Regions from separate parts of the Homo sapiens genome. Here regions 1, 2, 3, 4 and 6 are each linked to region 5. Evidence: fine-mapped expression QTL. A gene starts in region 5. Each other region holds a variant in brackets. All regions are shown on one strand. Distances are from middle to middle. Region 1 overlaps LINC02346 (long intergenic non-protein coding RNA 2346). Region 2 overlaps ATP10A (ATPase phospholipid transporting 10A (putative)). Region 3 has its middle 18 kb from the start of ATP10A-DT. Region 4 overlaps ATP10A (ATPase phospholipid transporting 10A (putative)). Region 5 holds the start of ATP10A (ATPase phospholipid transporting 10A (putative)). Region 6 overlaps ATP10A (ATPase phospholipid transporting 10A (putative)).

The links. PIP is the estimated chance that this variant, and not a neighbour inherited with it, causes the effect.
Region 1: its variant is fine-mapped to the expression of ATP10A in tibial nerve (GTEx, PIP 0.96).
Region 2: its variant is fine-mapped to the expression of ATP10A in iPS cells (iPSCORE, PIP 0.95).
Region 3: its variant is fine-mapped to the expression of ATP10A in lung (TOPMed, PIP above 0.99). The same link has a PIP of 0.9 or more in fibroblasts.
Region 4: its variant is fine-mapped to the expression of ATP10A in whole blood (TOPMed, PIP above 0.99).
Region 6: its variant is fine-mapped to the expression of ATP10A in testis (GTEx, PIP 0.99).

Annotation. Positions count from the first base shown.
Region 1 is chr15:25,907,251-25,911,339 of GRCh38, reverse strand. All of the region lies in intron 1 of LINC02346 (long intergenic non-protein coding RNA 2346), which reads right to left. Among named protein-coding and RNA genes, the nearest start is that of LINC02346, 6.9 kb to the right of the region's middle. The variant A/T (reference allele first, on the strand shown) is at 2,251.
Region 2 is chr15:25,788,878-25,792,966 of GRCh38, reverse strand. All of the region lies in intron 1 of ATP10A (ATPase phospholipid transporting 10A (putative)), which reads left to right. Among named protein-coding and RNA genes, the nearest start is that of MIR4715, 58 kb to the left of the region's middle. RefSeq lists an enhancer at 2,571-2,670. The variant G/A (reference allele first, on the strand shown) is at 1,909.
Region 3 is chr15:25,881,626-25,885,714 of GRCh38, reverse strand. No RefSeq gene overlaps it. Among named protein-coding and RNA genes, the nearest start is that of ATP10A-DT, 18 kb to the right of the region's middle. The variant C/G (reference allele first, on the strand shown) is at 1,644.
Region 4 is chr15:25,794,406-25,798,494 of GRCh38, reverse strand. All of the region lies in intron 1 of ATP10A (ATPase phospholipid transporting 10A (putative)), which reads left to right. Among named protein-coding and RNA genes, the nearest start is that of MIR4715, 52 kb to the left of the region's middle. The variant A/G (reference allele first, on the strand shown) is at 2,470.
Region 5 is chr15:25,861,185-25,865,263 of GRCh38, reverse strand. It overlaps ATP10A (ATPase phospholipid transporting 10A (putative)), which reads left to right and starts at 1,937. Exons shown (of 21, transcript NM_024490.4): 1 at 1,937-2,616. The coding sequence starts at 2,168.
Region 6 is chr15:25,682,129-25,686,217 of GRCh38, reverse strand. It overlaps ATP10A (ATPase phospholipid transporting 10A (putative)), which reads left to right. Exons shown (of 21, transcript NM_024490.4): 17 at 2,732-2,932. Among named protein-coding and RNA genes, the nearest start is that of LINC02250, 110 kb to the right of the region's middle. The variant T/C (reference allele first, on the strand shown) is at 2,158.

The sequences.
Region 1 (4,089 bases), 46 kb before region 5:
GCATTATGGACATCATCACTAATTCTGAATCTTTTCTCAACAATTGAGCTCACAGGTATGACTGCAGCTGACAGCCCACTTCAGATGTCCAACTTCATATTGTCACTGCCTTTGTGAGAATGACAAATCTTGCCACAGCACTTTCATAGTTCCATTCCCCTCTCCCTTTTATAAAATAATGACAAGATGTAATAGAAATATTCAGACAATTGCCCAAGCACAGCAATGATGCAGGTGCCAAAATTAAAACTTTGGCCAGCAAGCAGTTTCCTGGTAAGATTCCTCAAAATGCTGATCAGTTGATGTATAAAGTGCTCAATCAGCATGTGAAAGACAGATTGGGAGAATGAGTGCAAGTCAAACAGAACAAAATCAAGATCTCAATCTCTTTCGTCTCTAAGTGAAATGCATGTTGTGATTCAGGTTTTAGATCCCACTCTGTGCATATAACGTATTTCTGCCGCGTCATTAAACTTTCCTTGAACAGATTGGAAATGGTGTATAATGTCCACCCGATGAATTTACCTTAATAAATTTAACTATTCTCCTTTCATTAATACTTATGCTACGGGCAATTTTTATCATAAAAATTATCCTAAACTTAATATCCTTGTAGAGAAATTTTAATGTGCATTATTTTTGTAGGCAAAATGCTTAGAAGTAAAATATGACTTTAAAGGGTAAGCATTTGAATGATTCTTGATCCGTTTTGCCAAATTGCTCTCAAGAATGTGATCCTTTAATGATTACAGTCACACCAACAGGACGGAAAGCTACTGTTTTATCCTTCCTGCAAACTTTTTTTGTTTTTTTGTTTTTTTGAGTCTGAGTCTCGCTCTGTCGCCCAGGCTGGAGTGCAGTGGCGCGATCTCGGCTCACTGCAAGCTCCACCTCCCAGGTTCAAGCAGTTCTTCTGCCTCAGCCTTCAGAGTAGCTGGTACTACAAGCGTGCAACCACCAGGCCCAGCTGTATTTTTAGTAGAGACTGACTATTATCTCCTTTTTTCCTTCAGTCCTTGACAGTAGGCAAAATGCTATTTTTCTCATTTCCATTTCTATATTTGAAAGATAGAATCTCTTCATATTTATTAAGAGATTGTATTACTTTTGTGTGTGTGTTTCATTCACTTTTTATCCACCGATATTTAAAATATTCAGCATTACCCTTGTGTTTTGCTGGGATTTCTTGAATGAAACATATTCAAATTCTCCACCAATGGAGAAACCTGCTCAGAGCCAGCCAAGGTCCAGCACGGAGTTGGAGCTGACAAGCACGGCGGTGGGTGGGGAGCACCGCAAGTCAGGGTGCTGCAGAGCAGAGGCAGCGGGACTGCTGCGGGGCTCGGCGGGTGAGGAGAGGCACGGAACCCCAGGTGCCTGCGCACCGCTGCGCTCCCCAGTACCCCCATCATCAGCGGAGTGGGAGGGCTGGTCCCTGCTGGGAAAGGAGACGGAGGTTTTCATGCTTTTTGTTTTGTTTTTCTTCTGTTTTGTAGTTTTTTGTAGAGACGGGGTCTTGGTCTCACCATTTTGCCCAGCCTGGTCTCGAACTCCTGGGCCCAAGCGCTCCTCCCGCTTTGGCCTCCTAAAGTGCTTAGAGTCCAGGCGTGAGCCACCGCGCTCTGACAGGAGACAGAGGTTTTCAGACTTTCCTGTGTATCAGAATCACCTGGCCTGCTTCCTAAGACAAATGGCTGGGCCTCCCCACAGAGCCTGGGATTCAGTAGGTCTGGGGTGGGCCAGGAGAAGGAGCCTCCTAACCAGCGCGCAGGGAAAGGCCGCGCAGGGGCTGCGGCGAGGTGGGTCCCGGCGAGGTGGGTCCTGTGCACCTGCCGCGCGCGCACAGCCGCGCCTCGTTCCCTGCTTTCAGGGGCCTTCAAGCTACCCCTCAAGCGAAGAGGCAGTGCCTTCTGAGAAGGGTGTGGGTGCAGGCCATTGTGAGGTGTCAATTCTCTAAGTTCTTCATCTCCCTGCCCGACCCCCGCAGCTGGTTCACACGAAATCACCTTCCACAATGCCTCTCCATGTGACAAAAGCAGGGCTTGTGCCTGGCCCATCCCCAGTCTCAGAAAAGAGTGTAAAAGACAACCGTACCAAGAGACCCTTCTGAATAGAACCCCACGGTAGCTGATGAAACACCTTGCTCCTGCCAAGGCCTCCGCCTTCTGGCCCTGAATACTGTGCTGTCCCTATAAGCCCGGGCGTGGAACCGCCGGAATTCAGCATTGCTACAGTGCAGCTGCAAGAGTG[A/T]CCTCACCCCTTCCAACCCACCTCCACTCCCCACAAATTACTCTCAAAGGACTCACAGATCCCGAGAGAAGGTCTTACCAGAGCACAGCAAAAAAAGTGTGGAATTCTAAAAATACCTTTTGTTCTTTCCTACTTCATTAGTAGAGATATCATTAGCTAGAAGGAAAAATCTCTCCAAAAAGCAGGAGCAGTGTAGGTTAATGGTGCAGATTCTTTTCGTTGTGAATGGAATGTTTTCTCAGGACCATCGAGATATACAAGACCTGCACATTAATATTTGGTGAGCTTTCCTTCAGATTTCATGTATCATTCAATAAGGAAATCAAACTCATGTGGTCAAATAAGGTTGTAAAATATTCCAATTGCATAAATCCTCACTTTTATTTGATCAGAGAAAATGTTCATTATGCTCTGCCTTTTGTTAATACAAAATAAAAAGTATACCCCAGGGGTTAGACCAAGGACAATTTTGGTCAATTATCTTTTTAAAATGAATTTTTTTTTTTGACATTAAAAAAAAAACTCTAATTATCCTTCAAGCCAAACCCTGGAATCCAGTGCATGCTTGCCTACACATTTACTGAAGTGATATCATGGCTTCTTCTATGCTTTCCACCCATGTACCTCAGTCTAGTTACGTGTAACATTTTATTGTTAGAAATTAAGTGTTGCTGACCAGCATTGTTATCTTGTTTTTACAATTCAATAGTATACATAATGGAATTATATCTCATCGCTATTGTTTTAATCTTGCTATTGGCACTCTTAAAAGACAGATTCGATAATTTATTTCTCAATGTTTTTTGTAATATTCCTCAAATTGCATGTTAACATTTATTTATGTATAAAAATTGTCTATTTTTTTTAACAGAAATTGACTAAGATGTGACAGATGGTTTGACTTTTCAGTGCAACATCTATAAAAGCTAACATGGGATGGATGTGATGCAGAACTGTACCGCCTTCTAACAGCAAGCAATGTTCATCCATGGATACATGAATTAATTGGGAAAGAATTCTCATCTGTTTCATTAAGTGATGCATTCCCAAAACAATTTTAATAATTTTAATAATGATTTTAATGCATTTGTTGTTTTGATCAGTTTATATATATATTATGTGACAGAGAGGTATGACAGAATAATCAATAAAAGACATCAAGAAAAAATCAATATTACAATAAAATTGTGTGGAAAAGTAGAAAAAATAAACATAGAAGGAAAAACAATTTACAGTTGTCAAAGGTTTTGTTTGTGTACTTTTTTTAAGGATGATAGTGTATTTCATATTACTAGAGCACTTATATTATATTGTATACATTTAGGGCATATACATTTACTATGTATGTAGAACATATATTAATATATGTGTTTTATATATATATACACACACATACACATACACACACAGACAGTAATATTGTTTCCAGTTTTCACTTTTAACAAAATTGAATCAAGTAGTCAGATTGAAAATAATTTGTAATGATGGATTATTACATAATTTGGGGCATATAACTCCAAACACACCTAAAGTATTGAATATCGTCATAACATATACGTTATATATACACACACAATTCATACAGTATATGTTATATATACATATATAGCTATATACATATATCACATATTGTGGTAACACATAATCTGTGTGTCTGTGTATATATATATAAAACATATACTGTATTAACGTATTCTATATGTATATATATTGTGTGTATATAAATATATATATAGTTAAAGGTCAATGTTTCCGATATACCAAAATTACATTCTTTTCAGATATTTAAACTTGGGGTGAAACATGTCAACAGCCATCTTTGCAATGTGCAAAAAGGTA
Region 2 (4,089 bases), 72 kb after region 5:
CCTGGGAGGTGGAGGTTGCGGTGAGTCAGGATCGCACCACTGCACTCCAGCCTGGGGAACGAGAGCAAAACTCCATCTCAAAAAAAAAAAAAAGATTGAAAAGGAGCAACTTTTTGTAACAGATATTGGAACTGGGGCTGCAGGTGAAGTTGTGCAGGTAAAGATGGTCTCAGCGATGAGAGCCCTGCCCTGGCAGGGGAGATGGAACTCAAAGCAACAAAATTGACATTCCAAACAAGTCTCCTGGAGGTGAATTAACACTCTGGAGGTGCCTGGTGCAGTGCGTGCTTCGTGCTCTAAGATCTGAATTCTAAACGCGGGCCTCACCCTCACCAGGCCAGTGCTTGGGGGGTTGGGGTTGGACATCCACATAGAGGCTGCAGTAGGCCATCTAACCCCCGGGAGCATTTGCAGGGTCATTTAAATACATGCAACATCTGTCACCCACGTGGGTCTGGGGTTGGCCCCCTTTTCTATGACAAATGACCTGCATGGGTGTTTGTTGAGGCTTTGGGGCATCCCGCCTAAGCCCTCCTGGTGGCTATGGGACCTCAGACTGGCTGGGGCAGGGGGAGGGCTGGTGGCCACTGTCTTTGCAGAGAGCAGAGCAGGACCTCCCCAGTGTGCTGGCCCAGGGCCCTGTCTCTGGGCTCCACCCTGAGCAGGTACCTTTGCATGAAGACTCCTCTCAGCGCTGAAGCTAATGGTGGCACTGATCCAACATACTGTACTACCATGCCATGTGGGGTTGACATGAGAAAGGACAAGTAGATTAATGGAACCTAATAAGCCCAAATCAAATGATATTATCTGTAACAGAGTGGGTATGTAGGTTCAGTGGGAAAAGAACTAGTTAGCAATATTGACACAATTGGCTGTCTGGAAGAAGCAGCATTGGATGCTCAGGTCGTAACAGAGGAAAATGAACATCAGTTGGTTTGACCATTTAAATGTTTGTTTTAAAAAAAAAATACTCTGCACTCCTCCCACAAAAAACAAACAAGCAATACTTGGAAACAACATGTATAATACAGGGACATAGGTGACTGTCTTAGCCAGGCCTGGAGAAGTCAGATATATTTACCTATATAAACATCTGAAAGGATTATATAACAAAATTATGCTACAACTAGAAATGTTAAAACCGACAAACCATGGCTCTTAGAGAAAAATATTTCCAAAGCAAAAGACAGAAAAGGGGTTAATATTTTCAATATGAATGCTCTCACAGGTTTCGTGGTCAAGAAGAGAGGAAAGAATACAATAGAAAAAGTGAGGGAGGCCAGGCACGGTGGCTCACACCTGTAATCACAGTGCTTTGGGAGACTGAGGCGGGAGAATTGCTGGAGCCCAGGAGTTTGAGACCACCCTGGGCAACATAGCAAGACTCCGTCTCTACAACCAAGTTAAAAAACTGTTGGGCAGGTGGTGCATGTTAGCTACTCCCAGCTACTCCAGAGGCCAAGGTGGGAAGATTGCTTGAGCCCAGGAGGTCGAGGCTGCAGTGAGCTGTGATTGTGCCACTGCAGTAAGCTAGATTGTGCCACTGCACTCCAGCACGGGCAGCAGAGTGAAACCCTGACTCTAACTAAATAAATCAGAAGAAGAAGAAAAAAAGAAAGATTGAAGGGGAAACATGCAGAGTTAATTCACAGAGGAGCCTGCCAAGTGGTCTGGGTGGCAGGGAGATGCACATTAAAAGAAAAGTAGATGTCCTGCCCTAGCCAAGTGTGGTGGGGCACGCCTGTAATCCCAGCTACTGGGGAGGCTGAGGCAGGAGAATTGCTGAACCCAGAAGCCGGAGGTTGCAGTGAGTCGAGATCGTGCCACTGCACTCCAGCCTGGGCGACAGAGCAAGGGTCTTGAAAAAAAAAAAAAAAAACACTTGCAGGGAGGTTTTAAAAAGAC[G/A]AAGCAGCTGGTTTTGCAGAAAAAAGGGCCTGGAGACTCTTAGATACTGACGGAGGAGTGTGAATTGTTACAGCCTCTTAGGAAAAAATATTTACAATGCAAAACTTCTCCGTAGGAATAAGGAGCGCACAACTCCGGCCCATTTCCTGGGATTGTCATACCAATGAATGAATTAATGCATAAGAAATTACCTTGAAAACTCTAGAAGTGCCCCGGAGTGTTTTACATCCATTACTAGTGGGCAGTATTATTGAGATGTCTTGAGGTCTACTAAGATACTTTGAGAATGTACCATTATATGCAGAAAAGGCCACAGTAGAAATGATTTGTCAGAAAAAAAGTTTCATGTTAAAACTTACTAAGAGGTTTGTAAGTGATACTGTGTTTAGGCATCGTTTTGCTTTCGCAAACTAGTGTTTCCTGGGGAAAATAGATTTAATCTGGGTGTTCAGTGTTGCATTGTAGTGAGTAATTATGTGATGTGAGCATAGCATGGTGTGTCACTTTCTCTGGGCTGAGAGACTCTGCATCCTTTCTTCATTCTAAAAAGAGGCCAGAGGCCCTGCCCTCTGGGGGTGAGTTCCGCTGGGACAACATTCAGCCCTTTCTGACTTACCACAGAGCGACCAGTATTTTCCATTCAGCTTGACTCATTTGAGCAGTCTGCTCCATGCACACATGTGCTTCCACACATCTGGGACATTTCTTAGAGCTCACATCACCTCGAGGAGACATACAGAATAGAAAGTAGTTCAGAAAATACATTTTGTGCATCTAGTCTACACTACTGTATTTTTGGCAATTTTGGTATCAGAAGATTCACTCCAGAAAAAGCACTCCAACTATCATTTCTCACTGCCTCTCACTTTTAGTATTAGATTCAGAATCCATTAGCATGTCTCACTGAAGGAGCAGATGTTTCAGTTTATGGTGGAAGGAAGACACATTCTGGGCGTTATGCAACATACTTGGCTCACGTTCCCACTGCGGATTTTGCCATTGCTGTTTCAGTGCTGAGTTCTCACCTTCATGATTTTAAAAATACATTGGTTCTGTAAACATTTACTTAATAATCCATTTTCCAGAATCTTTGTCCTGGGTGTTTTAAAGCAGCATTTCTCAACCGGGAGCGATTTTGCACCCCCAGGAGGCATTTGACAATGTTTGGAGCTGTTTTAGGTTGTAACAACTTGTAGGGAGGGAGCCCTACTGGCATCTATAGGAGGAGGCTGGGGATGGTGCTCAGCAAAGTGCAGAGCCCAGAGCTGTCCACCATCAAGGATATCCAGCCCCAAATCTCAACAGCGCTGATGGCGGAGAAACCTTTGAAAGCTATTGTTGCTGGCATTCTGGGCTTTCTACTTCTCTGCCTGATGTATAATGAGTGTATATGAAATCTGCGATAATTTTAGAGTCTTGTTTGGTCTTTTTTAAGTGATGTAAAATTATTTTCTCTCTGTCTCTGTCACACACACACACACACACACACACACTTCTTTATTGGTCCACCATATGAAAAATAAATTCCAAGAAGGGTTTTCTTATTCCCAAGGCATCGGCCTTGGCACTAATGATTATTCCACAAGATTCTTGGATCTCTTGTGGTGATCCTCCCATTTAGGGCTCGCCTCACTGTGTCCTGGTTTCACATTTGCTGTTTGTTTAAAGTGTTACACACTTCTCCTGTTAGTTGGCCAAAGGAGTCCCCCAGGCTGACCTCACTTGGGAGGCCTCAATCTAGTTGGTCTGCATGTTAGGTTCATTAACATGTCTTCTTTTTTCTTAAAAAATGTATTCTGGCCAGGCATGGGGGCTCACTCTTGTAATCCCAGCACTTTGGGAGGCTGAGTCAGGTGGATATTTGAGCCCAGGAGTTCGAGACCAGTCTGGGCAACATGGTGAAACCCCATCTCTACAAAAAATAAAAAACAAATTAGCTGGGTGTGGTGGTGCACACCTGTCGTCCCAGCTACTTGGTAGGCTGAGGAGGGAGGATCCCTTCAGCCCTGGGAGTTGGAGGCTGCAGTGAGCTATCATCACAGCCCTGTACTGCAGCCTGAATGACAGATCAAGACCCTGTCTCAAAAACAAACATCCCCGCAAAATAACACATTACCTGTTTCATCTATAAGGCACAAAGCATCCGGATTTTTCTAGGTTTAGTCGAATGTAACACAGATT
Region 3 (4,089 bases), 20 kb before region 5:
TCTGAGATATTCAACACTTTATTATAAAATAAGCTTTGTGTGAGATGACTTTGCCCAACTGCAGGCAACTGCAGGCACTCTGAGCATGGGTGAGGTGGGTTAGGCTGAGCTAGGATATTCAGCAAGTCAGGTATATCACATGCACTTTCTACTTAAGATATTTTCCATTGACCACTGGTTCATTGTGACGTAATCCCGTCATAAGCCGAGGAGCATCTGTATTATTACTATTATTATTATTGTTATTATTATTATGGTGTGTGCACAACAAATGTTTATCAGCTTCTCATTCTCTTTTCCCAATTGTCTCATTTTTTCATTTTTCAAATATTTATGGACAATCTACTATGCGCCAGTCATTGTTGCAGGTACTGGAGCTACAGGAGAGGACAAAGTAAACACAATTTCTATCCTTTCCCTCTCATGGACTTTATATTCAAATAGGCTGGGGGCGATGTAGAAAATGATATCAACACATAGACTGTAACACCAGGTGGTGATGAGGGCTCTGAAGATAAGTAAGTCAGGAAGAAGGAAGCTGCCAAACACAACTGGAGTAGTGTCAAAAAGGTACATACCACTAATCTCAGCGCTTTGGGAGGCTGAGACAGGAGAATTGCTTGAGACCAGGAGTTTGAGACCAGCCTGGACAACATAATAAGACCCTGTCTCTACAAAAAAAAAAAAACTTAAAAATTAGTTCAGCATGGCGGTATGTGCTTGTAGTCCCAGCTACTCAGGAGGCGAGGCAGAAGTATTGCTTGAGCCCAGGAGTTTGAGGCTTCAGTGAGCTATGGTCATGCCACTGCACTCCAGCTGGGGTGAGAGAGAGACCCTGTCTCTAAAAAATAATAACAAAATGAAATAAAAAGGGACTGACTTGGATGTCAGTGCATTAGGAAAGGTCTTTGAGAAAGTTGACAGCCTAATGCAGTGACAGTGGCAGTTAGACAGGCATCGATTGCTCAGACTCACAGATCTGCAGATTATTATGAGGCGGAATCCAATATGCTGTGTACAGCAACCACATTAAAGTAAGGTTATGCATCACAGCCAAAGGGCGTCTCCCAATAAGGGGCCAAGAGAGGTCAGGGCAGGCTCCTCATGCTCCCTCTGAAAGCACTTGGCCAGATGCACCCTCTCTCAGATCAGGACCTAGGAGCTACAGAGGCATGCACTAAGCAGGCTGTTAAAGCTGAACCAAGAAGCAGAGCCAAACTGGGAAGGTGAGGTGCAAGGGACCACAGAGACTGAGTGCAGGGAGCAGAGGCAGGCAGCGGGTGTTTGCGTGCTTTTTGTAAGTATTTTGGTTCATCTTAGTGTGTCCACTTAATGGAGCTAGAATAAGTCAGCAATTTCCATGTGATAGTCCATAATTAAAAGAAATAATACCATGTTGTTATAAGGAAAAGAGAGTTGAATAAGAGGTTCTTGGCTTCATTAAGCCAATTAGATCAGTTTCCTTCTGGGAAAGGCACAATGATTCCTACCGCACCAGAGAATTCAAGTGAACCCTGACAGCTCTCAGGATTAGGAAGTATTTGCTCAAGCATGGAAGTCAAGCTTCAGGGGTGGCTAAAGAATGTCTGAGCCTGACTATGCAGATGCCACGCGTAACTAGACTGTGGGAGGATAGCATATAT[C/G]GACAGTAAGTCATCCAAAGGGCTTCTAATTTTTGACTTATTATAAAAGCATACTGCACATTCCGGGAAGTGCACACATCATAATGTACAGTTAAAGGATTACCACAAAGTAAATACAGTCATGCCAAGAAGTAGAGCATTGCCAACACTCCAGAAGATCCCTTATGCTTTCCCCAGCCACTGACACCTTTCCTTCTTAAAGGTAACAACAAAAGTAAAAAGAAATGCAAAAACCCAGGCAACTGGCATTCTGTTCAGTTAATAGAATATTACAAAACCTCACAAAGTTCCCTTAAGACCCTTTCCAATCATTTTCCACCCCTCAATGCCAGAGGCAACCATTGTTTAGACTGTTTTCCAAGCTACATTAGTTTTGCCTATCCATGGACTTCATCTACATAGAATCAAACATTAGGGAGTCTTTCATCTCTGGCTTCTTTCACTCAGCATAATGTACTGTGATTCATCTATGTTCTTGAATGTATCCTTGATATTATTGAATAACAGTCCATCATATGGAAATAACACATTTTGTTTATCCATTCACTTGTCGATAGACATTGCAGTGGTTTCTAGTTTTTGGCTATTTTGAATAAAGCTGCAATGAACAACCATTTTATGTACATATATTTTCATTTATCTAGAGTACATGACTAGGACTAGAATTGCTGATCACAGATAAACATATTTCATTAAAACAGAAACTACCACACATAGTTCCATAGTGGTTGTGCTGATGCTGGACAGGCGAGCCCCCAAATTGGGGCTTAGCCTGGGAGGGCTCTTGGCTTCACCCAGGAAAGAATTCAAGGGTGAACCGGTGGTGTTAAACAGCAACTTTGATGGCAGCACAGTGCACAGCAGTAGCAGGGGGTACTGCTCCTTGTGAAGCGGGGCTAACCACAGGCAGTGTGCCCAGAGTAGCAGCTCAGGGGGGTTCCGCAGTCATTTCATACCCACTTTTAATCACAGGCAAATCAAGGGGTGGATTATACAGAAATTTCTAGAAAAAAGATGGTAACTTCTGGGTTGTCAGGTCATTGTCATGGAAAGGGGTGGTAACTTCTGGTGTTGCCATGGCAATGGTAAACTGACATGGCACTGGTGGGCATGTCTTATGGAGAGGTGCTTTTGCCTCTTCCCTGTTTCAGCTAGTCTTCAATCTGGTCTGGAGTCTGAGCCCCACCTCTGGAGTCAAGTCCCACCTCCCGCCTCAGTACCTGCTTTACACTTCCACCTGCAATGCCTGAGAGTTCCAGCTGCTTCACATTCTTTGCCAATATTTGGTGGTATTATTCCTTTTCACTTGAGCCATTCTAATCTGTGTGTAATTGTACCACCTGGGCCTGGAGTTTCCTTTATGGGAAGGACTTTGATTTTGTTTTTATTTCTATTTTTATTCATTTTAAATTTGAGATGGACATTTGGTCTGTTGCCCAGGCTGGAGTGCAGTGACACAATCATGATTCACTGCAACCTCGACCTCCCAGGCTCAAGCAGTCCTCCTGCCTCAGTCTCCCAGGAAGCTGGGACTAAAAGTGTTCACCACCATGCCTGGCTAATTTTTTAAATTTATTTTTAAGAGAGATGAGATCTCACTATGTTTCCCAGGCTAATCTTGAAATCCTGGGCTCAAGTGATCCTCCAGCCTAGGCCTCCCAGAGTGCTGGGATTACAGGCATGAGCTACTTACTGCACCTGGCCTAGGACTTAGATTTTGAATTTAATATCTTTAACTGATATAGAGCTATTCAAATTTTACCTTCATCTTGCACTGGTTTTGGTAAACTGTTTTTCAAAGAAATATCCTATAACATCTAATTTGTTGAATGTATTAGAAGTCCACTATGTTGACTTGTTGTTGTTTTAATAACTATATGTTGTAGTGTTGCAGTGAGAGTGCGATTTCATTTAACCTCCACTTTTTTGCTATCAGTGTCATATATTTTAAATTTGCATAAGTTAGAAACCTCACAATAGATTGGTATAATTTTTTGTTTAAACAATTGCTTGCTTTTCAAAGACATTCAGAAATTAAATATAATACAGTATCTTTTTTGGTTTATATTTACAATATCCAGTCTTCTCCACTTCTTTTCACCTGAAGAACTTTTAGCTTCTCCTCTAACTCAGGTCAGCTGGTAGTGAATTCTCTCAGCTTTTGTTTATCTTAAACTGTCCTTATTTCACACTGTCCTTATTTTTGACAGATATTTCTTCCTCGATATAGAATTATAGGTTGATGGGTTTTGATGAGAAGTAGCTGAATTTATATATAATTTCTCTCTATGTAACATGTCTGGTTTTATCTGGCTATTTTAAAGATTTTCTCCTCATCTTTGATTTTCAGCTGTTTGACTCTATTGGGCCTAGTTGTATTTTTGTTTTATTTATCCTGCCTGCAGTTTTCTGAGCTTCTTGGAGGCTTATGGAAGCTTATATTTTA
Region 4 (4,089 bases), 67 kb after region 5:
GGCTTCGGCCCCCTTATCTATGACAAATGGACTTGCGTGGGTGTCTGCTGAGGCTTTAGGATTCCCGCCTGAGCCCTCCTGGTGGCTATGGGACTTCAGACTGCCTGGGGCAGGGGGAGGGCTGGACAGGCACTGGTTTCCCCCACGCCTCCCAGCACTGGCTTGGGGAAGGTGCGGCCTGTATGTAGAATTCAGACCTTATAGCATGAAGCGCACACTGCACCAGGTGCCTCCAGAGTGTTGATTCGCCTCCAGGAGACTTGTTTGGAGTTTTGATATTGTTGCTTTGGGGTCCATCTCACCTGCCAGGGCAGGGCTCTCATTGCTGAGACTGCCTATGTCAGTGAAGCTGAGGAGCTCCTTAACTCCAGTGATGGGAGTAGCTGGCTGAATGCAACCCAGGGCCTCCCTCCCTCTTCCAGTTAACTAGGCCGGATTCCAGATTTGTGACCCTGACGAATTTTGCAAGGGTTATATTTTTAAGAAGCTTAAAATGAAGTCTATAACAACACAGAAGTCTTACATTTAACTCTCTCCTTGGACAACTTCTTATTGTGCTCTCTGGGTAACACACTTTCAGTTTAATCCCTGTAGATGTCCCTGGAGGATATGACATAGACGAGGAGCCAGCCCAGGGTGAGATCGGGTAGCATGGCTGTGCTGGCACGTGGAGGGTAAAGGCAGAGCTGAAGGTCTCTCTCCCCACCCTCACCCCCCAGGGCGGCAGTCTCCTGGTGATGTGCCTGCCCCAAAAGAGTGGCAGCCAGAGGAGTCCCAGCTCTGACCTTGGTGACAGAGAAGGATCTGCGTGCTGTGGAGCTGGGCTGCCCTTCTTGGATGGCTGTCCCCCGAGGAGGGGCCCAAGGATCCACTGAGCCCCCTCCAGACCTGCAGCACTGGCACCTGGAGCCCAGAGCGTGTCATGTCTCCGTATGTAGAGAGTCTGTAATTTCTAAGAGAAAACCTAGCACAAAATGGAAAAGTGTGGCAGAAAGTCAGGAAGAATTGAGTTCAAGGGAGCACAGAACCTCTGAAAGGGTGGGGTGGGGGCAGGGGCCAGGGGCCAGGGCAGCCACCATGGCACTGGCCTCAGGGGACTCTCTCTGAGGGGGCTAGCCTGTCCTCAAGCCACTGAGGAGTCCTTATTCACAAAGACATGTACTTTGTGAATTCTTTTCTGAAAAAATTACATTTCCAACTTACTAGAACTTGCAACAGCACAGATGAACCTGGAGAACATTATGTTCAGTGAAATAAGCCAGCCACACAGAGACAAACACTGCATGATCTCCCGTACGCGTGGAACCTAAAAATGTTGAATTCATAGAAGCAGAGTAGAATGGGGGTTACCAGAGGTTGGAAGGGACTTGGGGGGATTTTGGTCAAAGGATACAAAGTTTCCCTTAGACAGGAGGAGTCGTTTTAGGATCTGTTGTACAGCACAGTGACCATAGTTAATAGCAATGTGTATTTCAAAATTGCTAACAAGTAGATTTTAAATGTTCTCATCAGAAAAAAAGATCGGTATGTGAGATGTTAATGGTTTGATTTAACCATACCACAGTGTATACATGTATCAAAACATGACATTGTGCCTCATACTATATACAATTATTATTTGGCAATTAAAATTTAAATTTTTTAAACATCTCCAAAGCTACGGAAGGAGGAAGGCCTCTACAAGGCCAGCTCAAATTACGGCTGTCACCACCTTCTGTCAAGTGTCACATTGTCCTGTGGCCTAGTTGACCCATCCCAGAGGGATATCCGGCAGGTTCCAGGCAGGTAGCACCTGCCCAGGACACATGTGGCTCTGACGATGTCTGCCTCACCTGTGGAGGGTCCATGACTATGGGAGAAGGTCCCCCAGTGTGGGTGGGAAGAAGCCACGTTGTGAGGTGGGCTAGCAGCTCCCCGATGACTCATGAGTACCACGTTTGTGCATGAACGGAGGCTTCTTTTCCAACTCCAGCTGCTCGGGCATTGCTGCATGCATGCACACAGGCCATAATTAGACCATGGCAGTGTGCATTAAAGAGGCCAGTGCCACACTCATATTTATAAGCTCTGAAACAAACTACTTTTTTTTTGAGACAGGGTCTCGCTCTTTTGTTCAGGCTGAAGTGTAGTGGTGCTATTGTGGCTCACTGCAGCCTCAACCTCCTGGGCTGAAGCAATCCTCCTGCCTCAGCCTCCCAAGTAGCTGGGACCACAGGGGTACACCACCACACCTGGCTAATTTTGTTTCTGTTTTTTATAGAGCTCAGGCTAGTCTCGAACTCCTCCCACCGTGGCCTCCCAAAGTGCTGGGATTACAGATGTGAACCACCACGCCTAGCCCTGAAACAAACTATTTTCACATGTTGTCCCTGTTCGTTTTGTGTTGCTATAAAGGAATATTTGAGGCTGGATAATTTACAAAGAAAAGAGATTTATTTGGCTCACGGTTCTGCAGGCTGTACAGGAAGC[A/G]TGGCACCAGCATCTGCATCTGGTGAGAGCCTCAGCTGCTTCCTCTCATAGGGGAAGGGAGAGGCGAGCAGAATCACAGGGGTGAGGAGGGGGGTGCCAGGCTCTTTTTAACAACCAGCTCTCACAGGAACTAATAGAGCCAGAACTCTCGCACATCCCCTACACCCCCAGGGCAATCATCTATCCATGTGGGATCCACCCCCACGACCCAGACACCTCCCATGAGGCCCCACCTCTAACGCTGGGGATCGGTCTTCAGCAGAGGTCTGGAGGGGACAAACATCCACACTATAGCACATGTCAAAATTTTCCCAGTGTGTATTATTACACAGGACTGCAGAGTGAAGGAATAAAATGATATCTAAAGAAATACTTCCAGACAGATGTCTTAGTGCTAGTACCTGTCTGGCACACTTTGGGAAAGCAAGTACCCCTACTAGTAAGCATAAGTGTCATAACATATGACTAAAACCAAAATCAGAGCTCATTCTGTGGCATTAGGTTGTTATTCCCTTCATCAGAAATCCAAAAATGTTAAAACAGTTCTTGTTCCTATTTACAATAGGAAAGGTATTCAATCTCAAATCATTGGGCAGAGTGTAGGGAAGAGGCTGTCACTCTCTCTTCTCAGCAGGTGGCAGGGAAAGCCCAAGGTCGCCATTCATTAGATGTTAAACATCGGACTGGAGGTGCCAAGTTGGCGCAGGCCCTCCCTCCGTGGGCCTGTGTCTTAGTCACGTGGACGGTGGTGTCCTGTGGGCTGGGCTGTGTGGCTGTGGGCTGTGTGGCTGAGAAGGTGGGGATGCCCTGGCTGATTCAGTCCCTCAGAAGGGGGCGCTGCTCATTGTTGTATGCTTGCGCGGTCACATAAGATACCTGGGATATAGCCAGTTGTAACCTACACAATTTTCCCAAAGAAAAAACAATTGTTTTTCCTAAATAAAGATAGGAGAGAACCACTGTGATTTAGCAATGCCCATTTCTCAGCACTTCCTATCTCCCAAATACTCTAAAATTGGGAGGTATGAGCCAGTTGAGTTTTGGGCCTTCCTTAGAGCTGCTGTTCCGACCTCCAGCTGTGAGTCTTTGGACGTTGACTCAACCCCCTCTTCATCCTGATAATGGGAATGGCACACCTTCCAGGGACACTGCCAAGACTGACTGGTGACAATGACCCTGCAATGGCCTTTGTGGAATCCACGTGTGTGGCCTCCAGAGAAGATGACCATCTGCATGGCCCTTCTCACTGTATTTTACCCAAGGAGGAAAACTCAGTTTGTAGTTAGTTCTGCGTTTCAGCCTTGTTATCCATTCTCGGAATATTACCGGGTAAAGTCAGTTTCGCGAGGGCACTGCTGCTGTTGATGCTTGACTGGGAAAATTGACGTCGGCTTCCAAGCCGGGATTCACAAAGGTGTCTTAGGTCACTGCACACTGTGCCCAGGGAAATCATGTCTCCATGGTATATTTTGATCCATGTGTTAAAGTCCCCTCTATTCCCAGGGCTGGATCTTCCAAGACGGGGCAGTGTTTGTTTGCTTAAGGTACTTTACTGATCATACTCTGTAGCCCATTACAATTTAGGGATATTTGCAGTAAATATGTTATGGAGAAATATTG
Region 5 (4,079 bases):
AAAAAGATTCCAGACTTGAGGAGCATTGTGACTCACAGAATCTTGGAACCTTAGAGCGGAATGTGGATGGGATGAGTAAGGACTGTTCTGAGAAGGATAAGGAGACCTCTCACCTTGGGGCTGGGCCTGAACCAGGGAGGGGCTGAAGAAAATCAGCAAGCTGGTTCCCCTCAGGGCCTCAAGGGACCTCTGCCTGAGGAATCAGCATTTGGCTTTGTAAGCACCAGGAGTACTCCTGGAAGCTCCAGGGTAAGCAAATGGAATGAGGCGGTAATTACTTTGGCAACAGTGTGGACTGGCTGAAGCTGGGAGTCTGGTAGGCGCGGACACCCCTGGAGACTTTGGGCGAAGGGTCCACGGGGATGCCTGTGAAGACAGGAGGCCGAAGTGTAGGGAGGCCGAAGGCCTCGGGGGTCACCAGGTGGGCTGGTAGAGGAAAACACGGAGCCATGGGATGTGAGGCCTCAAGACTGCAGGCGCTGTGGGCCTTCATTTGCAGTTGATGCTCCGTTTGGGTTTCTGCTGGTTGACTGTGAGACCTGACTCCTTTCCCCAACAATGCAGACTTCAGCCAAACCTTTCCCTGATCTGGGCCTCTACATGTCAAAAGCCCACCCCTGTGACTGGGGGATGGGATTATTTTCTTCACACCTGTCACCACTCTACCTTCTAACACTGGGTTCTGGGCAACATTGTGGATGGTGGCAAAACTGGGCAGAGATGTAAGAATGTCATAACTGGAGCCGGGTAAGCCAGGGTGCTGGAGGGGAGGGCCTCCCCAAGCCAGGGTCCTGGCGAAGACGTGATTTGAGTCCATCCAGGGCAGTGCCTTGTTAGCAGGCACCCCCAGGAAGAGCCTGGGGCCACGGCCAACCGCCCAGCCACGGCCTCCTGGGCAAGAAATAACTGCTTCTCATCTCTGTACTTCTTGAGTGGGAGGCAAACAGTCACAGCCATGAAACATCTGTGGGGTCTCACTGCGGACGTGGGGGACTCCCAGCTCCTTTTTCCATGCCGTGCTTATTCTCCCACCCCTTCTCGGATGCCCCATGATGTGGAGGGGAGCCCTTCGCCCCACACTTCTGGGACACCCTCCTGACGCTCCCCTCTCCTCCCCACAACCATCCTCGCCTCCCCACAACCATCCTCGCCTCCCCCGCCGTCCGGGCCATGACAGCCACCTCAGAGCTACAGCGCACAAGGAGCGTTTCGGTCCTCATGATTTCCCAGGGAGGGAAACAGACACTCAAATACCTGCAAACCAAATTCTGTCTTTGCTATAGCGATATATTTCTCCTTTCCATGAAGAAAGAACAGAAAAAAGAAAAAGAATTTATTTAGGAGAGGAAGGAAAGGCAGTAATGATGATGGTGGAAAGGAAACGGTCTAGTTCGCCCAACAACGGAATCTGAAAGTGGTGGGGGCTGGGAAGTGGGGTAGGAAAGAAGTTCTTAGAGGCAACGCGGAATCGCCCTTCCCAGGGCTCCCCAGGAGCAGAGGTCCTGCGTAAAAAAGACTTAAAAATTGGAGCACTGGATGCCATGGATCCTTTGGATTTTGATTCCAGTTGATCCCTGGAGTAAGGTCCTAACCGGGGTCTCCCGAGGTCGTTTCGCCGTCCAGGATGGAGCAGGTCTGGCCCCTGGAAGGGCGCGCGGGCTGCTTGGGGACGGGGGCGCCTTTTCTCGCGCTTCGCGGTTTCCTCTCTCCTACTGCAGGCAGCGCGCGTTTGCAGCGTTTTGGGACCGAACTGATGCTTCTGGGAAACGAAACTAAACCTCTCTGAAGTTTCCAGCTCGGGCTTTTTTTGTTTCCCGCTATCCGGCGTGGCCCAGTCCGGGCGCGGAACGAGGGCGGGGCCGTGGCCACCGCGGCGGAAACGACCCGGGCCGGGGGCGGGCGGCGAGGACAAGGGGGCTCTGTGCGGCACCCGCCCAGCTTGCGCCCTGGGGACTGCGGCCGGGCGGCGGGGCTGGACGGGAGTGGACGGGGCTGGGCGCGGGCTGGGCGCGCTGGGCCGGCCAGGCGGCGCGCTGACCGCGGTCTCCGTGCGTCCCGCAGGCGGGGAGCTCGCACCGCCGCGCCCGGGCCGCGAGTGATGATAACCTAAGAGGCCGGCGCGGGCGGGCGTGAGCGGCGGAGGAGCCGGGCGCGGCGACACGCGGCCATGGAGCGGGAGCCGGCGGGGACCGAGGAGCCCGGGCCTCCGGGACGGCGGAGGCGCCGAGAGGGCAGGACGCGCACGGTGCGCTCCAACCTGCTGCCGCCCCCGGGCGCCGAGGACCCTGCGGCTGGCGCGGCCAAGGGCGAGCGGCGACGGCGGCGCGGGTGTGCCCAGCACCTGGCCGACAACCGGCTCAAGACTACCAAGTACACGCTGCTGTCCTTCCTGCCCAAGAACCTGTTCGAGCAGTTCCACCGCCCGGCCAACGTGTACTTTGTCTTCATCGCGCTGCTCAACTTCGTGCCGGCGGTGAACGCCTTCCAGCCCGGCCTGGCACTGGCGCCGGTGCTCTTCATCCTGGCCATCACGGCCTTCAGGGACCTGTGGGAGGACTACAGCCGCCACCGCTCCGACCACAAGATCAACCACCTGGGCTGCCTGGTCTTCAGCAGGTGAGTTGGGCGGGCGGGCGAGCGAGCGCGCGGTGGCGCAGGGCAGGGCGCCCCGGGAACTTGGTGTTGGGCACAGTGATTGGCAGGGGCTGGGTGCTTAGAAGGCAGCTCCACTCAGGGTGGAGGGCCCGGCTGCGCGGGACCCGGTGCCGACCGAAGCCACAGCGCCGCCAAGGCCTCTCTGTGCCTCCGCCGCAGCTAAAGGGGCGCCCTGGATGCGGGGACGCGTGGGGATCCCCTGTCACTCCGTGTCGGGGCCAGAATGATCCCAAGGCTAGAAACCGACGGCCGCTGGACATCCTCATCCACAGCCGCTCCCACCTGAAGTGAAAGGCAGGAAAAGCCAGCCTGGCCCCCTGGCCTGAAGTCCCTGCCTCAGTCTTCGGCCAGGCACAGTGGTCTCTGAACAGCCGGCACAGGACAGTAAAGCTCAGTCTGCTAACAGCTCGGCTCAGGACAGCAGCAAAGTGAAACTGCCGCCAAGTGCTGATATGTCTGGCACGGCCCAGGTACCAGGGCAGGGGAAATAACAGCAGTGTCCATCCTCCACTGTGAGCCATGAGCCGCGAGCCAGGCACCGCCCGGTAGCTGCCTGCCTAATTTTCTTCATCTTAACCTGCTTCCTGGGGGAAAGAGGCTGTGGGGTGTTTGTGAGCCCTGCCACGGGCAGTACCAGGGGTGACCCTGCGATGGACCACTCCTGCTCTTTTTCCCTCCCTGAGTTTTAGAGTCTCCGGCGGACCTGTCCAGAGGCCTGCGGCCTTTTCATCCTTTATGCTCTCCACCCCAGGAGAGCCCCTTGGTAGATCCATCTTGGAGCTGTGTCCAGCAGCCTGGACCACCTCAAGGCCCTGTCCCTGAGAAAGGTGGGTCGTCTTAGCTTTCCTCCAAAGCTCAGCCCATCGTTACCTCCTGCCTCACCTTGCTTGACCCCGGAACAGGGACTGAGATGGGCTTCTGAATAGAACATTAGCGGTATCTGGCTTCCATTATGCATGGGGAGACTCTAGGAAGCCCTATGCTCTCTTAGTGGCAGATTGTTCCCCTAAAAGAGGAGGGTCAGAGTGGCTCCTGCCTCTTAAACGTAGGCATTCACGAATGCCTTAGACACAGGCACTCATAGCTTGGATGAAGCCATGGATGCGTGCCTCTGTAGTTGAGTACCTTTCACCCTCCCAGCAACACTGCAGTGGTTATGCTCCATATTTTTGTAAACAGAGTAAACGGGTTCAGAGAGGTTAAGTAAACCTGCCCAGTGTCACACAGCAGCAAGGTCGTGGTACTGGGATTTGACCCAGGTCTTCCCGCCCGCACAGCTTTTTGAATATTTCTTTGCTCGTGCTTCTGAAACTTTTGTAAGAGTCACTGAAGGCGCTTGTTAAAATTACAGTTTTCCAAAGTGTCTCACTCAGCAGGCCTGGGATTGAGCCCAGGAATGTATTAGATTAGCGTGCACGTAACTC
Region 6 (4,089 bases), 180 kb after region 5:
TCCCCTTCACACTCACCCCCTTCATTTTTCGGAGCGTCTTCTAGCAAATGCATACAGCTGCTCAGATCCAGTCAGGGCATGTTTAACTTGATAGGTTTGGTCCCAGACATTAATTCAGATTAGGCTGTGCCTGGGACTATCTGAGGAAGGCTGTGTCACACCACTCCTGGGCTTGCCGGCTCATACCTCCTTTCTCCCAGCCCTGGCATTAAATCCCCAGAACTTTGAGGCCTCAAGTGCACAGTTGTAAGCCTAAAGGTTCTCAGCTCCCGAAGGAGTGGAGGGATGAATGGGGGTGGGCAGGGAAGAATCCAAGCCCCCTTTCTATCACTTGTTAGCTGTGGGTTCTTGAGCAAGTTAATTCCTGCTTTGGATTTTTTTTTTTTTTTTTTTAAAGACAGGGTCTGATTCTGTTGCCCAGGTTGGAGTGCAGTGGCGCCACTCTAGCTTACTGTATCCTCAAACTCCTAGGCTCAAGCAATCCCCCTACCTCAGCCTCCTGAGTAGCTGGGACTACAGGCCACCATGCCCAGCTAATTTTTTCTATTTTGTAGAGACAGGGTGTCGCTATGTTGCCCAGGCTGGTGTCAAACTCCTGGCCTCAAGCTATCGTCCCATCTCTGCCTCCCAAAGTGTGGTATTATAGGCATGAACCACCATGTCCAGTCTTCTTTTAAATCTTAAAAAAACAAAGCAAAGCCTGTGAGTTGAGCCAGCTGATCCCTAATTCCCAGTTAAAATGTCTCAGATCGAAGGGAGGGCAAGAATGATGTAGGCCAAATCATTAAACACTTCAGATGCAAACAAAGGCCCTAGTGGTCACCTGGAACGGGCACAGCCTCCTGCCTGCTGCGATGAGTCCCTCCCCATTGAAGGGTGCAGAAAGGAGAAGAGGACGCCTGTTTTTATTCCATAAAAATGCCAGGCCTTTGTTAACAAGCATTAATCTACATGAGGAGTTCAAGGATAATCACTCTGCCTCCTGAAATGAGAAATTCATTAGTTTTAGGAATAAGGTGGCCTTTCTTTCCAATAAAAAGCAGAGAAGAAAGGTTTCCATAACAACAGTGGTTTGGGAAGAAAGCTTTTTGGTACTATAGGAAAAAAAATCTCAATTATCTGAGTACTTATCTTCTCTTTCTCTTGACTGTATTTGCTACCGATGACTCACTAGGCCAAGCCTGCGGGGGTGAGTGAGCGAGAGCCAGCCGTAGGAGTGAGGAAGGGAAGAAAGTCAATGAATAAAAACCAAATGTTCGTTTTCAGCATGTAGGGAAAGGCTGCATATTAAGACATTTAAATCATAGTCTGACACAGGACTTGGAGGCTGTGTGGCATGGTGGGTTATTTCAACATAAGCTATTATTTCTTATGATCTTCACAAGTCACTTTCAGGTCAAGAAGCCAAAAGCTCAGGGAGGTGAAGTGACTGAGTCAGGGTCAAAAGGGTAGATAGTTGCAGCTCCAGAACCAAGCCCAGGCCTTGCGGTGCCCAGCAGAAAATGTCTGTCTAGCGTCAGAGTTCCCTGCTGGGACTGTGCCTGCCCTCCAAGCCAAGACCCATCGCAGTTGAACAAGTTGGGTTCCTTACTCACACCGTGACCTCAGCCAAGTCATTTGATGTCTTGGAACTTCAAGTTCCCTCTCTGTATGTGGGATAAGAGCACTCGCCCTGCCTGAGTCCCAAACAAGGGAACTAACGATACCACTCACCACCATACACCGTAGGCGATCACCTATAGCTCTCCAGGGACTCTGGTGAGTCCTCTAAATGTACTGGGTCGCTTCACGCTCACAGCAGCTGCATTGGCTGAGTATCATTGGTATGCCCATGTCATGAGCAAGGAAAGCGAGACTGAGGAGTTCATGCTCTGTGCCCAGCTACATAGCTCATGAGTGTTAGAATGCTTTGCAATCACTAAACTGTCATGTCCACCGTATAAATGCACTCAGGCTGCTGATATTCAGGAATCTAGCAATAGTGAGAAGAGATCTGACCTTGCTCCCACCCCAGTGAGCAGGGGCCAGAGGTGGCTGTTCCACCTCCCTGAATCTCACTTTCCTGTTCTGCTGAGCTGGGTAGCTGTAGCTATGAGGATCAGAGATGATGCCTCTCCCTCTCCCCCCAGCAGAGGTCCCCGTGGACAATCAGGTCAC[T/C]GCAGCGATGTTGATGAGGTCATTGGCTTTGCTATTGTGCTTTTGTGTGTCCTCCCCTCAGTGGGAGTCAGTCACTGTCCACTGCACCTCCTCAGAGAGTATGCAGGTCACTAAAGAAGAGACAGGAGCAGAGATATAGCCACAGGTAGGCTTTGTCTGGGGTCACAGACAGAGGAGGGCCACTAGGGAAGATGCCACAGCTCATACTCAACTGGCCCTCTTGAAATGTGAGCAGCCCTACACCCCTGTGAAACCTTGATTTTGTTTTATGTTAATGATCCAGAGCTTGTCAAGCACAAAAATCTCATCCCCGCAAGTGCTGCTCCTGGGAATTCCCAATTCCCACTGCCAGTTCTTCTTTCTTAAGGGAGTGAGGAGGGCGAAGGGAAAGAGGAAGAGGGAGAGGCAGAGGCCAGCAGCAGGGCTCAAGGTCATGGCTGTCTTTGGCAGAAATCGCTGCCAATACATTTAATCTTGACTGTGAAACTCTGCAGGCCTGTCAGCTCCCTCGGATGAGAATCCTCAGCAATGGCTGAAGACTCGCCTGTTCCTGTTCTTCCTTTCTTGATTTCAGATGTTCGTGGGCCTCCTGTTTTGGTTCCAGTTTTTCTGTGGCTTCTCTGCATCTACCATGATTGACCAGTGGTATCTAATCTTCTTTAATCTGCTCTTCTCGTCACTTCCCCCGCTCGTGACTGGGGTGCTGGACAGGGATGTGCCAGCCAATGTGCTGCTGACCAACCCGCAGCTCTACAAGAGTGGCCAGAACATGGAGGTAAAGCTCCCCCGAGTCTCCGCCTTCCACCTCCTGAGCTCTGCCCTCCACGTTCACTCTTCCAAAGTGCCAGTCCCCCAGCCTCCCTTCAGATGGACACCCTGGACAAACTGAAATTCTAGAATTCACCATTCTAGAGGATGGAGAAAAAGGGCTGCCCTCTGCTTGGCTGCAGTGCATCAAGTGTTGTAAGCGAAACTGTCCCCCCTCCAAGAGTCTCCAGGAGCCCAAGAAAAGCCCAGAGTCCAGTCAGTCACAGGGGATCACTGAAGCTAGAGGGGGGATTTTTCTAAAGCAAGGAAGAAAATGTGACTTATTTTGAACGGGAATTAACAAGAAGACAAACCCACAAGGAAGCCACTGAGCCACTGAAAGAGCAAATAGATTTAAATACATACTGGCATTAATATACCACATAGATTCACACACTGATGACCAGCTGTTTCTAGCCAGCCATTAAAATAGACAGCAAGTGCTTTTCTTTGCCTTGAATTATTCCATGTGGGCAAAAAGAACATGGAGTCTCATTTCTCCTGCAATAATCCCTAATTCCAGATTCATTCACTGATGAGTTAACTTCCCCTGGCCACCTCTGAGAATGTTCAGTTCCCACAGAAGCAGGCCGCATGCACGGGGTGCCAGGAGGCGAAGGGCCAGGGAGGGGAGCAGGGCCTCTGCTTGTTATCTGTTGCTTCAGGGGAGTTCCCATCCTTGGCCAGGCCTCAGCCTCCTCGGCCACCTGTGGGACAAAGACGCTGGGAGTGTGTCCTGTCCTGTGGAATTAAGTGGCCCACAGGAAGAGCCTAGCCAGCACTTTCCCTAAGTGCTCAGCCAGAGCTCCTTCCCCAGTGTGTGTTTCCTGCAGGTCCCGTGCCAGCTGCTCTGGTACTTGGCAGGGTCAAATACACATTTGGTCACCCGGGTAATAGAGACTCTATTCATCTATATCAAGGTTATTTTCATTTCTGCCCATGGGTATATAGCTGTTTGCTTTTAACATTGGGACACATCCATCGTGTAATTTTAAAAGTGAAGACTCGCTCTTAAGAAACATTCTAAGGGACCCACCACCAAGAGAGGCAAAAACTGGTCAAAGTGGAAGGAATAGAAGGGCTCAAACTGGGGGAGAATGCCCGGAATTTCAGGTGCTATTCCTA